2 separate regions of the Homo sapiens genome follow, and region 2 is linked to region 1. Evidence: fine-mapped expression QTL. Tissue or cell type: amygdala. Region 1 holds a variant in brackets; the other region holds the start of a gene. All regions are shown on one strand. Distances are from middle to middle.

Evidence for each region. PIP is the estimated chance that this variant, and not a neighbour inherited with it, causes the effect.
Region 2: IP6K2 starts here. The variant in region 1 is fine-mapped to the expression of IP6K2 in amygdala (GTEx, PIP 0.97).

What each region holds. Positions count from the first base shown.
Region 1 is chr3:49,107,030-49,111,809 of GRCh38, reverse strand. USP19 (ubiquitin specific peptidase 19) reads left to right here. Exons shown (of 27, transcript NM_001199161.2): 21 at 1-310; 22 at 445-555; 23 at 644-860; 24 at 947-1,099; 25 at 1,206-1,366; 26 at 1,448-1,626; 27 at 3,282-3,760. The coding sequence ends at 3,398. Among named protein-coding and RNA genes, the nearest start is that of QARS1, 4.7 kb to the right of the region's middle. The variant A/C (reference allele first, on the strand shown) is at 2,587.
Region 2 is chr3:48,715,549-48,720,107 of GRCh38, reverse strand. IP6K2 (inositol hexakisphosphate kinase 2) reads left to right here and starts at 2,887. Exons shown (of 6, transcript NM_016291.4): 1 at 2,887-2,951.

The DNA.
Region 1 (4,780 bases):
TCTGTGAGTGTATTCCAGCCACCCTTTCAGCCAGGCCGCATGGCCTTGGAGTCTCAGAGCCCTGGCTGCACCACACTGCTCTCCACAGGTTCCCTGGAGGCTGGGGACAGCGAGAGAGACCCCATTCAGCCACCTGAGCTCCAGCTGGTGACCCCTATGGCTGAGGGGGACACAGGGCTTCCCCGGGTGTGGGCAGCCCCTGACCGGGGTCCTGTGCCCAGCACCAGTGGAATTTCTTCTGAGATGCTGGCCAGTGGGCCCATTGAGGTTGGCTCCTTGCCAGCTGGCGAGAGGGTGTCCCGACCCGAAGGTAAGATCCAGTGAAAGGCTCTAGAAGCTGGGGAGGAGGATAAGGGAGGATGGAGGGGGCTGTTGTTTAGGGCCTGGTGGGCCTGGTGAGGCCCTGATGGGCAGGGAAGCTTTGATTATCATGTTCTCACACAGCTGCTGTGCCTGGGTACCAGCATCCAAGTGAAGCTATGAATGCCCACACACCCCAGTTCTTCATCTATAAAATTGATTCATCCAACCGAGAGCAGCGGCTAGAGGACAAAGGTGTCTGAGGCTGTGGGTGGGAGCCATGGGGTGGGTTGAGCTGGCTGTTCTCCACAGCTGCATGACCTCTCTCCCTGCGAATCTCCAGGAGACACCCCACTGGAGCTGGGTGACGACTGTAGCCTGGCTCTCGTCTGGCGGAACAATGAGCGCTTGCAGGAGTTTGTGTTGGTAGCCTCCAAGGAGCTGGAATGTGCTGAGGATCCAGGCTCTGCCGGTGAGGCTGCCCGGGCCGGCCACTTCACCCTGGACCAGTGCCTCAACCTCTTCACACGGCCTGAGGTGCTGGCACCCGAGGAGGCCTGGTGAGAACAGAGCAGCAAGTAGATAAGGGGGCAGGATGGAGAAGAGAGAGACTTGCTGGTCCTGACCCAATCTCTGTCCCCACCAGGTACTGCCCACAGTGCAAACAGCACCGTGAGGCCTCCAAGCAGCTGTTGCTATGGCGCCTGCCAAATGTTCTCATCGTGCAGCTCAAGCGCTTCTCCTTTCGTAGTTTTATCTGGCGTGACAAGATCAATGACTTGGTGGAGTTCCCTGTTAGGTAAGCAGTGGACCTTGGTAACTGTGGGTGGGGTGTGAGGACCAGGATGGGCATCCTGAGCGCCTGTTGCCTGTCTCACCCCTCCCTGACTGGACCTGACCTGCAGGAACCTGGACCTGAGCAAGTTCTGCATTGGTCAGAAAGAGGAGCAGCTGCCCAGCTACGATCTATATGCTGTCATCAACCACTATGGAGGCATGATTGGTGGCCACTACACTGCCTGTGCACGCCTGCCCAATGATCGTAGCAGTCAGCGCAGTGACGTGGGTGAGGGCACACACAGCCAGCAGGATAGGTGGTAGGGGTGGTGGTGCAGACTTTGTTCACACTCTTCCCACCCTGCTGTAGGCTGGCGCTTGTTTGATGACAGCACAGTGACAACGGTAGACGAGAGCCAGGTTGTGACGCGTTATGCCTATGTACTCTTCTACCGCCGGCGGAACTCTCCTGTGGAGAGGCCCCCCAGGGCAGGTCACTCTGAGCACCACCCAGACCTAGGCCCTGCAGCTGAGGCTGCTGCCAGCCAGGTGAGGCATGTGGGAGGCTTTACAGAATACTGGGGGACAGTTCACAGACTGGGGCCGGGTTGGGGGATATAGCTTCCTCTCCTCCAGCCACAGGCCCATTGAGCCTTGGGATTCATGAGAATTGCAGAGTTCTCTTAACATCAAAGCTTTAGCCAGAGGCATCCCCATGCCTTGGGGACACTAACAAACATACAAGTACACTAACATGCTGCCACTGGCAAGCACATTGGCACCTACTTGGCACAGGTCAGGCAACTGCTCTGAACCTCACTGGGCACTATGCTGTGAATGAACTATACCTGACACTCTCCTAGATTTCCTCTGCACATTCCCCACATGCTGGCCCACACACCCTCACTTGTGATGTCCCTGAGTTCTAGTGTGCACTCAAGACAAGGCCTATTTGGGCTGGCCATGGCCTCTGGTGGCTGTTATACTCTTTGAGGTAAGCATCTGTCTTTGCTGAGCCTTCAGGATCTTCTCTTTAGTGACATGGTGTGCCATAGGCCCAGTTAGTGGGCGTAGGCACATCTCTTTTCTGGACTGGCCGTCTCCTTTCTGGCTCCATCCTCTCTTGAGCCTTCTCTGTCAAGCTTAGAGAAATCCTTGCAGAAGACTGGTCAGGATCTGGGTATGGGTGGGAAGGAGCAAGGAGATTGCTCTGGGATTGGCAGTCCTGTTCTCTATGAATCGGTGTCCTTTGGGGAGGCCTGGACTGAAATACTAACCAGATAACTCCCCTCCCACCTCCATGCGGAGCTGCATGTGGATTGAGAGCTGTTTAGGGTAGGCCAAAATGCTGTCAAGATTCTCTTACCCTTGTGCTCTTACTCTGGACAGCCCTGAGGTTGGCTGCCTGCCTTCCTCCTTGCTGTTTGATCTAGAATGCAGGGTGTTAGCCCCAGTCACCCCAGGTGGGACTGTCATGGCTAAGGGTCTCAGGGACACTGGGTCCTCCCC[A/C]CCCCCGGGGTGCTGATGGCCGTTTCCACATACCCTAGGCTTCCCGGATTTGGCAGGAGCTGGAGGCTGAGGAGGAGCCGGTGCCTGAGGGGTCTGGGCCCCTGGGTCCCTGGGGGCCCCAAGACTGGGTGGGCCCCCTACCACGTGGCCCTACCACACCAGATGAGGGCTGCCTCCGGTACTTTGTCCTGGGCACCGTGGCGGCTTTGGTGGCCCTCGTGCTCAACGTGTTCTATCCTCTGGTATCCCAGAGTCGCTGGAGATGAGCTCGCCTGCAGGCAGCTGCTGTGAGCTGGCCTACCTGCCTGCCCCAGGCCATGCCTGCCTTTGTTGTGGGGAACACCTCTGGGCTTTGGGCCTCAGCTTATGCATCTGGTGGGAGAGGGTGGGGAGGTTGTGGCCCCTGCAGGGGCAGAGTATCCTAGGGTGTGTATCCATCTGGCTGTCTGTCCATTCATCCTGCTGCTCTGACCCTTGGCCTCAGGCTTGGCCCTGCCCAAGCTACTTCCTGTACTTAAAAGTGTTAATAAAACCAGACTATTCAGGCCCAATCTCGTCTCTCTGTCTCAACGCCGCTGCTGTCTGCGCCTGCCTTGGGACCCTCCCTTGGGTGCCAGGGCTCCAAGCCAGCACCCCCGGGATGCCAGGCGGCATGCTGGGCAGCCCCCAACCCCTGTCCTCGTATTCTGTTGCAGGGACTAGGCCCTGGCCAGGCCCCCGAGGTGGCCCCCACGCGGACAGCCCCTGAACGCTTCGCCCCCCCTGTGGATCGGCCAGCCCCCACCTACAGCAACATGGAGGAGGTGGATTAGCAGGTCCCTGGCTGATGGGGGGGACTGGGTTTGGGACACCCACACAGAGGGCCAGCTCCTTGCCGCTTCTCCTTCTCTAACCCAGAGGACACTGGCTCTGTCAATGGGAAGCTGAGGGGTATGATTTGGGTGTGGAGACCTCTCAGGTTGGGACTTCTTGTCAGCTTGGACCCCTGACCAGTGGGCTTTGGCTTCTCCAGCCGCCTCCAGTGCTGCGTGATTTGATTCTGTTGTACCTTCAATTCTTCTGACCCGCATTATAAACATTATAATTTTATTCTAAAAATTGTAATTTTTTTTGCATTTTGGAAGTGACTGCTGCTGTTTAAATATATTTTAAAAATAAATAATAAGTAAGTAGACTTAGTGACTGTGATCCACCACATGCTGGGGCCACCTCCCCTCCCCATCATTTGCGGTGTGTATGTGTGTGTATGTGTGTTTATATATGAGAGACCCTGAAAGTGCCCTAGTCTGAAGGGAGATGATGGGGTCCCAGCTCATGTCCTATGGGTCATGAAGCCCCCAGTGCTATCAGCTTTTTGGAGCCTACCTGCTGCTCTTTCATCCCACTGGTTCTGGATCCTACATAAGAGGCAGCTTGGTAGGCATCGTCAGGATCTCAATATAGCCAAGGGACAGAGGAGTATATGAAGCACTGGAGCTGACAGCGTGGAGTAAAAGGTGCATTCACCAGAGCAGCCTGGGGCTGACAAGTCAGGGAGGACTTGGGGGACAGAAGTACTGGGAGATCTTCCTCCTCCTCTCCTGTCCTCAGCTTTTTCTTTGCTGTAACTTGAACACTAACTGCATCCCTGCAGGTAACAGAGCAGGAGGAAAACTGCTGTGGGGCAGATCTTGCTGCCCTGAAAAGAGGACAAGCAGAGAGGACCAGAGTGAATCTTGTCTGACTTCTATTGGAGGGAGGGTGCTGGGGCCTGCCAGCCTGAAGAGTCTTCCCTTAAGAGTTCCTGAAGCCTTCCTTCTTTGGCCAGGCATGGTGGCTCACACTTGTAATCCCCGCACTTTGAGAGGCCGAGGCGAGTGGGTCATGAGGTCAGGAGTTCGAGACCAGCCTGGCCAAGATGGTGAAACCCCGTCTCTACTAAAAATACAAAAATTAGGTGCAGTGGCGGGCACCTGTAATCCCAGCTACTTGGGAGGCTGAGGCAGGAGAATCGCTTGAACCTGGGAGGCGGAGGTTGCAGGGAGCCGAGATCGCGCCACTGCACTCTAGCCTGGGCGACAGAGCAAGACTCCGTCTCAAAAAAAAAAAAAAAAAAAAAAGTTGCTGAAACTGGCCAAGTGTGGTGGCTTATGCCTGTAATCCCAGCACTTTGGGGCGAGGTGGGAGGATAGCTTGAGCCTAGGAGTTCAGGACC
Region 2 (4,559 bases), 390 kb after region 1:
TACAAGTGTGAGCCACTGCACCCGGCTGACACAGAGTTTTCTTCATGTCATGAAAGTTTTCTTCTGTAGTTTGACTAGCTGGTGCCTCCATTTCAGCTGTCCCTTTTTCTCCTTTTAGGACTCCTGCTGTCTGCACATCAGAATTCTTGGACTTGCCCCCCAGATCTGTGGTCTATTCCTTCATCGTTTTCAGCTCTGTGCATCTTTCCCTTAAGTTCTGAGCTATTTCTTCCATTAGACCCAAGTGGCTTTTTCATATTCCCTCAAAATATCAAACTTCTTCTTTCCTCGGGGTCTTTGTACTTGCTGTGCTTTTGTCAGAAATGGCTTCCTCTAGATCTTTCCATGCTCAGCCAGTGCCTTTGGGCTGATCTTAGCTCAGATGTTCCCTTCTCAGATCTACCTCTCCTGCTGCCTTAGACATAAACACCATACTCTGCACTTTTGCTTGGTTCCTTTTCTCCATTGTAGTCACTCTGCCTATAATTATGTTATTTGTTCTTTTACTGTCTGTTGCCTCTCACCCACCTCCGGACAAATAAATCATTTGAATTCTTGCTGTGTTTATTCACGCTGCATCCCTGGTGTCTAATCTAAGTCAGACCTTGATAAGCACTTGTGAAAGGAATGGAAGAGTGAATTAATGCTAGGGCGGCCCCAAGGTGGTAACTGCTATGAAGCGGCCGGGTACGGTGCCTAATGCCTGTTATCCCAGCACTTTGGGAGGTCAAGGAGTGTGTATCACTTGAGGCCAAGAGTTTGAGACCAGCCTGGCCTGGATAACATGGTGAAACCCCGTCTCTATTGAAGAATAGAAAAATTAGCCGGGTGTGGTGGCACACGCCTGTAATCCCAGCTACTTGGGAGGCTGAGGCATGAGAATCGCTTCAACCCTGGAAGCGGAGGTTGCAATGTCATAGCACTGCAGCCTGGGTGACAGAGCAAGATTATGTCTCAAAAAAAAAAAATTCTGAGAAGGTGGTAACTGCTATGGAAACATATAGAGCCAGGATGAGGGGATAAAGGTGGTACTGAGTGCTGGGGGCAGAGTGGGGCAGGTTACAGTCTGAAATGAGGGGCTCTGAGAGCTGGGGTGCAGCTCTTTGGAAATCTGTGCAATCCAGGCATGGGAACAACCATAACTCATACACTGTGCAGGAGAGTGCATGGGGTGTGATGTGTGAGGAACACTGGGAGATTGAGCAGCAAGGCCAAAAGCTGGCCGGGGAGATACAGTCGGGGGGGTGATAGGGAATTATGAAGGTCCTGATGTCTCTGGTTTTCCCTTGGGGAGGAAGTACTCCAGGGTTCTGAGCAGGGAATGGGAGGATCTGACTCATGTATTCACAGGCTGATGTGTGCAGAACAGACTGAAGGCATCAGGGGCAGCAAGAGGAGACCAGGAGGCAGCTGTGACATTGCACTCAAGAGAAATGGTGGCAGTTTGGACTCAGTGAAAGGTATGGAGGTGGCAAGAAGTGATTTCATTCTGGGTAGATGATGCTGATGGAGACAGCAGACCTTCCTGGTGCACTGAATATAGATGGGAAAGAGAGTAGTCAAGGGGTACTTTGAGGTGTTTGACTTGAGCAATAAGAAGGGCTGAGATGCTATCACTCAATTTGGGGAAAGTGGGGTGAAGTAGGTTTGGCGGATGAGCCAGTGTTAGGGTAGCACAAGTTGCGTTTGAGATGCCAGCAACTGGAAGTCAGAGTGCAGATGTCTAGTTGACAGTGGGACTAGTGAATCTGCCACTCAGGAAGGGTCTGGACTGGACAAACACTTTTAGGAGTGATTGACATGTAGGTGGCATTTGAAGTCATGAGCCTGGATAAGATTTTGGAAGAGTGAGTGTAGACAAAGAGAAAACACACAGATGAGAAACTGGTGAGACTGGAGGAAACCAGGAGGACATGGAGCCCTGGAAACCACATGCTAAGGTGAGAGGAGCTGCTCACAGAAGTCTCTCCTATCCACTGTTATAAGGTCAGGGATATTTATTTATTTTCCTTTTTTGTTCACTGCTGTATTTCCAATACCGAGTGTAAGTGCTTAATAAATACTTGTTGAATTAAAAAGTGTATGAGTGAATTTACACCTTTGCAAATGCCCAGTACACAGGGCTGCAACATTGTTCTCCTTTACAGAAAGAGCAGAGATCAGGTAGGAGGCTCTGCCCATTCTCAGTGGCACTAACCCTCTCCTTTGCCTTTCACAGCTATGCTGACATTCACTCAGGTGAGAGCCCTTCTGTCCAACACAGGCCCAAGACAAATGAGCCTCAGACAAGCCCTGTGGTGTGGTGCTTGGTGGGAGCTGGGTTGGGCACTGGGTCATCCACCAGTCCCCAGAAAACTCTATGGCCACTTCTCTGTCCACCCTTCCATATCTAATAATCTGTCTGTCTGTATCTATAACCATTTCTTTGTCCACCGTCTACAGGCACTCTTTTGTCCCTCTTTCCGTCTATTCACATCCAGTCTTCTGTCCATCTGCTAGAGTGACCAACTTCCCAGTTTGTAGTGGACTGTCTCTGTGTTAGCATTGAAATTCCTGCATCCTGCGAAATCGCTCACTACTGAACAAACCAAGACTGTTGGTCAATCCATCTGTTTCCCAGGTATCCTGCTGTCCATCGGCCCGCAGCTAGTCTATCCACCCAACCGCCCGTCAGACCTCCGGCCCACCCTCCCAGACGGAGGACAATGCTCCGCCCTCTCTGGCCCCGCCCCCAGTCACCGCCTTTTCCGGAAGCTGCTGCAGCGAATCCTGGCACCCTAGCAACAGCGCCTTTCAGGCTGTCCAGTCCGCGTGCGCAGCTCCTAGGACGAGCCAATAGTGAGGGGCACCGGGAGCGAGGTGCAGGGGGCGGGGCTCGGCCTGGCCGCAGCCATTTTGGTGCGAGAGAAACAATAGGACGGAAACGCCGAGGAACCCGGCTGAGGCGGCAGGTAAAGCTCGCGTCCTATGGCCCTAGTGCCCGAGGAGCTTTGAGGGAGATTTTTTCAGGCTACTGGGAAACGGGATCTCTGATCATTGGAGTCTCCCAGGTTATTTGGGAAAGACTTCTTCCGTGGTCATTGTGGGGGAAATCTCCCGGGGTCCCTGTGGATTCGATTTCCCTGGGTCATTTGGGAGGAGGGTTTTTCTTCTGATCATTGGGGGAGGGATTTCCGTGGTTTTGGGGGTCCAGCATCCTCCCCGGTCATTGGAGGGGGTCTCCCGGGTTTGGGGGAGGGCAGGATCTTTCCTGGTCATTGAGATCTCCCCGGGTCTTGGGAAGCGCAAGATCTACGGTGTCATTGAGGGGTCTCCCCAGGTCATTGGCGGCCACGATCTCCCCAGATATTTGGCGGGTGGAGGGGTCTTCCCGGATCTTTGGATAGGGAGTCAGCTCAGCGCCTCAGGTACTGTTACCTGGGGTCGGCAGATGTGCAGCCATTTTGAGTGTTGAATGCCATTTGGGCCCGTCAGATGGTGTTCGATGAGGGAATCTACACACTTAACCTTATTATAGAAAAAATGCCTTTAAATGGATAAGAGGACACCTTTATAGTGATATTTCCACTCTTTACGTTTGATTACAGACCGCTTTTGTCTTTTGCATCCTAATGGCTTATTTCATTTTAGGATTGTATTCGTTCTCATATATCAACTAAGCTACACTAGCAGAAAAGTGAGTGAAAATAAAATGTAGAAACCAGTAAAATCCAGTGCTCTTAAATACCAGGGAAAACAGAACTAGTCACTGCTTGGAATTAAACATTTCCGTAGCAGAATGTACACAGAACAAAAAATCATCTTGAATAGTTTTAAGAAAAAGTACTGGCACTTTGGAACGTGGTAACAAAAATGTTGTAGATCATCGGTTCTATGATATTTTTAATAGAGGACCATGATTACAGTAATTTTGTTGAATTCTAGTGTTTAAAATGTTTGCTGTATTTGCAGTTGTAGCCAGGTAATATTTTAAGTGAACTAAGATGCTTATTTATATAGGTTGTTGCTGTGGGGTTTGTATAATTGCATCGTGTAACTTGGGTGTTAAGTATTTAAAGAGAAGCTTCAGGGTGTTGTTTTAACTTTAGCCACTATCAGAGTTAGAAAGGGCCAAATGAATACTTTATCACATTTGACATAATAGGCAAATTGATGGCCTAGTAACTTTTTTTTTTTTTGAGAAAAAGTTAAACTGTTAACTGTCATTTAAAATTTTTTTTCTATTTTCTGTGGTCTTGTCTGACATTGTCATTTCGATAGATTTACCTGCTTTGTGACTTTAGAATTCACAGGCATTGTTAGAAATCAAATGGAGAATCACTTGAGCCCAGCAGTTCAAGATCAACCTGGGCAACATAGCAACACCCTGTCTCTACAAAAAAAAAAAAAAAAAGAGAGAGAGAGAAAGAAATGAAATGGATAAGAACACTGACTAGAGTTAATACAATTGTAGAAACTAGCTTTTTGTTTGTTTGGTTTGTTTTTTATGCAGGGCCTGGGTAGGGAGGGAGCAAGGCAGGGACCTGGGAGATCTAGAAATCAGTGTAACAGATATAATA